Homo sapiens: one gene and its partner. The protein of the gene in region 2 purifies or fractionates together with the protein of the main gene of each other region. This does not show direct contact. Each region holds a gene or a part of one and is shown on either strand. Other genes may lie near its edges. The genes, in order: SERPINA12 and SEC22C.

Evidence for each region.
Region 1: the proteins of SEC22C (region 2) and SERPINA12 purify together in Homo sapiens (affinity purification with mass spectrometry; 3 studies listed by BioGRID and IntAct, with this or other methods). This does not show direct contact.

Annotation. Positions count from the first base shown.
Region 1 is NC_000014.9:94,489,625-94,492,469, forward strand, and holds part of SERPINA12 (serpin A12 precursor), read right to left. Parts: intron 144-2,845; coding exon 1-143. UniProt on the Homo sapiens protein: Adipokine that modulates insulin action by specifically inhibiting its target protease KLK7 in white adipose tissues.
Region 2 is NC_000003.12:42,550,696-42,554,719, forward strand, and holds part of SEC22C (vesicle-trafficking protein SEC22c), read right to left. Parts: intron 2,754-4,024; coding exon 2,553-2,753; 3' UTR 1-2,552. UniProt on the Homo sapiens protein: May be involved in vesicle transport between the ER and the Golgi complex.

The DNA of each region.
Region 1 (2,845 bases), on a different chromosome or scaffold from region 2:
CCACTTTCAGGCTGCGATGAGGGGCGATCTTGGTGAGATCACCATGTTCCTCAAAGATTTTGGAGACACCTATGTAGGAGAGAGTCTTCTTCAGGTCGAAGGTGCCCGTCATGTGGAGTCTGGGTACAGACACGTCTACGACCCTGGGGAATTGACACGACAAGGGTGAGTGGTCAAGTCCTGTTGTGTTGCAGGGCAAGCCTCAGGATACATGACCAATGAAACATGTGTCCTCCCAGCCCCAAAGGTCTCCAATCTCTCTCCATCCACAGAATGAGGAGGGGCTCCTTAACCCTGGGACCCTGGTTTCAAAACACCATAAGCTCTCTGAACCGTGTCCCTGCCTCCCAGCACACCTGCCCCAGAGCCCTCTACAGGGAGTGTTCTCAAGTCTCAAGTTCCCCCGTCTCAGAGCCCCTTCAGCCACAGTCACTGATGATGTCCACACTGTAGTCGCTGCCATGCCTGAGCCCTGAGCCCATCCTGACCCCAGAAGACCTGACACTGGAGGGAACAAGGCACCCAGAATCTGGAGGTAGACAGAACTGAGTTCAAATCCACTCTGCCTCTCATGAGCTCTGTGACCTTCCCTCTCTAAGTCACTTGTGTGAGAAGGAAAATGATCACCGTCGCTCCTGCGGGACACTAGGGGTGCTAAGGCAAATGCAGACAAGGCACTCAGCAGACAGTTGGTGCGTAGCAGGTGCCCATCCTCCTGCCCTCCAACTAGCAGCTTCACATCCTCTGTGGCTGAACCGCGATCAGCCTCCTGCCCGGAGCCTGGGGCCCAGGCTCTCCTGAGGTACCTGCAGACCCTGGATTCCCGTTCACCTGGCCTTGCACCCTATTTTCCCACCTACCCAAGGATCTCATTCCTGCCTATGTGTCCTCTCTCTCCTGCATCATCCTTAAACAGTGCCCCTTTGATCCTCCTCTGGAGGAGGCCTCATGCTAGAGTGACCCTATCCTCAAAAACTAACACCAAGAGATCTCTCTTGGCCCTGAATAGCCTCTCCAGCTTCCAGCTCATTTCTTTTCTTCCTTTTATAGCAGCTATCTCCACTCCCTCCCACAATTGCCTCAGTCCACTCCAGTCGGCTCTTTGACCTCAACTTTTTATGGAAGCAACTCTTTCCAGAGTCACCGTTGACAACCAGCCCCACGTCCCAGAGCCAGCTCTCAGTGAGCCGCACGTGATGGTAATCCCTTTCTCCAAGGTGAAGCATTCCAGGTCCACCCCTTGAGGCTTCTCCTCCTTCCCCACCACTCCTGCCCCTGTCGGGCTCCACCCCTCCCATCTCTACCGGTGACACTGCTGCTTCCAGGCTCAGACCTTGGTCCCCTTCTCTTTTCCACCTTCACTCCATCCCCATACATGTCATTCAGTCTCACAGCTTTGAATATCATCAACAGGCCCAACGACTCCCAAATTTACCTTTCCACTCATTCATTCACTCAACAAACATTTATTAAATCTCTACTGTATACCAGGTGCTGTTCTAGGTGCTGGAGATGCATCTATGAACAGAGCAGGCAAAGATCCCTGCCCCTGACTGTGTGTTCTAGCAGGGAAGACAGGTGATAGAATCAACACAACAAAAAGTACCACTTAAGCCTACATACATGTACTAGCGGTATGCAGAAGGCAGTAAGTGCTATGGAAAAAAATAAATAGATTGACTTGCAGGAATCGAGGATTGGTCCAAAGTTTGAGCAAACCTTGAGGCAGGCAAGAGAGTTAGACAAATTGGGGTTTTTTTTCCTGAATAAAATGGGGAGTCACTGTCGGGTTTTGAACAGAGGAGTGACATAGTCTTGCTTAGGATTTAAAAGGATCATTCTGTTGCCTCTGTTAAGAATATACTCTTGGTGGTGGTGGTGTGTGTAGTGGGGATGGGCAAAAATTGATGCTGGGAGACCATTTGGAAGCTAGTGTGGTAGTCACATGTTGGGAGCCACAGAGACGGCGGAAAGATACCAAATTCCAGATGTGGTTTGCTGTAGGCTAAAGGAGTTTCCTGACAGACTGAATGAGGCATTTGAGGGTGGTCAGGGTGACTCCAAGGTTTTTGGCTTGAGCAACTAAAAAGATGGAGTCACCACTGATTGAGATGGGCAGGCTTGGGGAGGTTCTCTGGGGACAGATCAGGAAGTCATTCTGGATGTGTTGACACTAAGCTCCAATTACACATCCTGGGGACATTCTGGGTAAACAGAAAGATCCACGACTCTGGAATTTGGGGGAGAACAGGGGCTGGGGATGGAAGCATGGCAGTCGTGGTAATAGAGATGGTGTTTAAAGCTCTTAGCCTGTGAGCTCACTCAGGGGTAAGTATAGACAGAAAAGAAGGCTGGGAACTGAGCCCTGAGACACTCACCTCTGAGACCTGGAGGAGGAGAGGGGTCTCCAGCAAAGGAGATTGAGGAGGGGAGAGGTGGGAGGTGATGTGAGAGTGGAGAGCTGGAAGCCAAATGAAGAGTGCCTTAAGGAGGTGGGGACAGAAACCAGCCGAAGAGCGAGGCCTGAGACTGACTGCACTCTGCAACACAGACACCCTTGGGACCCTGGGAAGGGAGCTTTCTGTGAGAAGTGGGTGCAGAAGCTGGACTGGAGTGGATTTAGGAGAGGATGAGAGGAACTAGGGGCTGTGAACAGAGGCAACTGCTTCATGGTATTCACCTGCAAAGGGGGAGTGACGAAATGGAGGAATAACTGGGGGAAAGCAGAGGTCAAGAGAAGCTTTTATGTTGGGAAAAATAATAGCATTGAGATTTCCTGCAGGCCAGCACAAGCCATACAGGCCTGCCTGCACAGAAGGCAGACACCTGCTTTGTCTTCTTGCAT
Region 2 (4,024 bases):
GTGGTCAGGAAGCATTACCAGGAAGGACTCATCTTCAAGGACCGTTTCTTTACTGCCTGCTGAATATGGATCATAGGCTCAGATGCCCAAAGCACCTGGGGTACAGGTCTACATGGCAACCCAATGCCACATAGGAAAAGAAAACAGTCCATTTTTAAGCCGTTCTTACCGACTTTTTTTTTTTTTTTTTTTGAGACGGAGTCTTGCTTTGTCACCAGGCTGGAGTGCAGTGGCTCGATCTCGGCTCACTGCAACCTCCACCTCCCGGGTTCAAGAGATTCTCCTGCCTCAGCCTCCTGAGTAGCTGGGGCTACAGGCACAAGCCACCGTGCCCAGCTAATTTTTGTATTTTTAGTAGAGATGGGGTTTCACCATGTTAGCCAGGATGGTCTCGATCTCTTGACCTCGTGATCTGCCCACCTCAGCTTCCCAAAGTGTTATTGACTTTTAAAGCTTTTTTGTTCTTCTCATTTAAAACATTTTACCTCCCCTCCTTAACTTCCCATTCTATTTCACCATCTCTTCAAAATTGTCTCCCAGAAAAACTGAAAATTCACCTGCTGGGTATGCAGAAAATTATGCAGATGTGAAATCAGTGTAGAGACAACTTTGGAGTTTATGTCTGAGTATGCTGCCAATATAATTTTCATATTCAGACTTTTTAGAGACAGGGTTTCACTCTGTCATGCAGGCTGGGGTGCAGTGGTGTGATTATAGCTCATGGAAGCCTCAAACTCCTGGACTCAAGGGATCCTCCTGCCTCAGACTCCCAAAGTGCTGGGATTACAGGCATGTGCCATCACATCCGGCTAATTTTTTTTTTTGTAGAGATGAATCTTACTATGTTGTCCAGGCTGGTCTCAAACTACTGGCCTCAACCGAGTCTCCTGCTTTGGCCTTCCAAAGTGCTGGGAATACAGGCATGAGCCATCATGCCTGGCCCATATCCAAATATTTTATGTTTGGTCAAAAATAGAAAATTCTATTATAAAAAATAAAGTTACTATGGCAACATTTTCCCAACATAGTTCCCAGTATATAAACTTATTTTTCTTAAAATGATAACAAGGTAGCTCAATAACAATACAATACCAGTGATAACCAAATATAATTGAATTTTTCTAAAACTACATTCTTACATTCCCTATCCACTCAACTCTTGTAATGGTTTTCCACTTTTAAAAACTATCAAAATAGGATTTTTAAAAATTTATCAAGACCACATAATGCAGTTGAACACTCAAAGTGTTCCATGCAACTGTGGTTGAACTATTCAGATTCCAGACTTCTACCAAGAACAATCCAAAGAGCAAACTCCCAAAATGACCTCCTGCGTGGTACAAAACAAGCCAGGCTGAAATTTCGGGAAACCTAAGGGATCTTATCCAGAACCATATTTTGGAAAACTGTGATCAATCAATTTTTTGACAGTGAAAGAGAGTAACTTTCCAGAGTATGTGTTAATTATATCTCTATCAAGCTTTAAAAAGTTAACAGATACTTAACTCTTGTTCATAAAAAATGAGGCCCTCAAGCTAATTAAGATGACTGGGAAAGGTGCAGAGGAGTAATTAATTTTGGAGGCGCTCTGGGAACAGGTACACAGGGTACAGTAGTCATCATCATTAAAACAACAGGCACTCAGCTCTACTGAAAAGGCTGATGACAGCAGCCCCTCCCAAGCGGATCTGTAAAGTGCCACTGAATCCATGTTCATTCACCTACTCCAGGTTGTGGTCAATTGTAAGTAATCCTGAAATTCTCATTTCTGCTCATGCTGACAAACTTATCATCTAGAAGTACTGGTTATTCAATTAATTTTTAAAATATTCGGATATACCCTGCAAATAAATATAAAACATCTCTGTACCCAAACAGTCCCACCACTATAAAAGGTTACATATAAATTAAATAAACTCAGATTTCTTAACCATTTTCTCAGCTTAAGTTTGCCCTCACCCTAAATGAAGTCCAATTTATATCCAAAATATAATTAAATATTCCAAAGGTATATCGAACCTAAGATATTGAAAAAATGTAAACAAAATTTATCTAGCTTACATTTATGAACCATATTTTTAGGTTTTTAATTCATCCTGTACTGACCCTCTGAAAAAAAAAACTAATCAAGTTATGTTTAGACTGAAAGCTGATTTGGATTTTAAAGTGGTTCCTTGGAGACAACTCTCAATGACTAAAACCAGTGTTATTGAATCAAGTGGTTTACTGTATCATTCAACTTAAAAGACCAAAATATTTCCTTTCTCTCTTCCAATAAAGCTCTTTCTGGATGAGCCCCCAGATCCAGCTGTCCTAGGTAAACGTGCTGAACTGGCTGGAGATCCTGCAGTAATGCTTGGCACAGAACCAAGGCTGGGTATCAAGCAACCTCATGACTTCCACTGCAACTGTTTAACATCCCCAATTCCTGGTTTTTCAGTCCAGTTGGCTGAAAAGGATGGAAACTGGAGTGTAAAGTAGAGAAGCAGAAAGAGAAACATAGATTGATCCTCAAAAGAAAATCAAAGAATCCATTCATCACAGTGTCATCCTCATACTCCACAGTCAGACTGCTTCTCCTGAAGCTGCCTTGTTAGTATCTGATATGAAGACAGAAAAGCCACTCCTATGTGGAAAAGGATTTGCCAGAGGTTCCTCAGCCCGTGCAGGTACATGTTGCCCAGGCAAATAAAGAGCAGCATAAGCACCACCTTCATAGTCCTGGCTGGACTGTAGAACAGGTACAAATAACACTGAAATGAGACCAGAAGAGGAATTCCAATCAGAGATAAAATGGCCACTAGATCATATGCAAAATTCACCTCCCACAGCTTCCATGAAGAGTGTCATTTCTCTCACATTAGCTGATTAAACTGAATTCATTACAGTAAAGCGTGGACCCACTGGTTAGGCTGCTAATTATTGGACGAAAGTGAGGATTTGGAAGATTAAAGGAAAGTGAAATAGATGTCACAGGAAGAATCAGTGCATGGCACATCTGAAAGAAGTTAAAGAAATAGACAGAAATGACCAGGCTGTTGGCAGTAGAGAAAGAAGAGCTGCACATAAGCTGCAGACAGCCAGGCTGCAGACAGGGGACCCTAACGTGACTGACTGGCCCCCCAGTGAAGTTTTTCTTCAGGGAGCCAGGACAGGCAAGCAAGCTGGTGAGAGAAAGCCATGCTTTTACTATTTTGGTTTCTCCTGAGCCACGACTACATTGAGCACCACTCTTCCCTTGGGCACCCTCCTTATCATGTCTTCCAAAGCATCTCTGAGTCAGGGAAAGGTCTCACAGCAGGGAGAGTGACTGGTATTTTGTGTATGACTATCACACATAAAAGGGGCCATTCTTGTTCTGCAAAAGGTGGAAACGGCATTTTGGTTCAATGCTTTGTTTTTTTTTTTTAAAAAAAGGACATCACTGAACATGGATCAATCTGACAAAGGTTCAATCTACAGAGGGAGGGAGTGAGCTATCCAACCAGGAACACAGTTGAAGGAATGAGGTGGAACTGTACAATCCCTGCAGTCCTAAAACATAGCTCTAGGAAACTGCCACTGGCTATGTCCAAGGTCTTGGAGACTTGTTTTCTAAAAAATGAATGCATTTTCATGGGTTGAAAATTTCTTTTTGCATAATCAGGTAATGCTTTTTCATTTTTTTTAGGCAATGTCTTTCTCTGTTGCCCAGGCTGGAACACAGTGGCGTGATCTCAGCTCACCGCAACCTCCACCTCCAGGGTTCAAGCAATTCTCATGCCTAAGCCTCCCAAGTAGCTGGGACTACAGGTATGCACCACCATAATCAGCTGATTTTTGTATTTTTATTATAATAGAGATGGGGTTCCCTAGGCTGGTCTTGAACTCCTGGCCTCAAGTGATCCACACATCTTGGCCTCCCAAAGTGCTAGGATTACAGGCATGAGTCACCACACCTGGCCTGGGTAATTCTTAAGAATAAACCATTCTAGGATGTATGTGGAAGAGAAGGAAAGCGTCCTAAGAACAGAAATTTTAATTT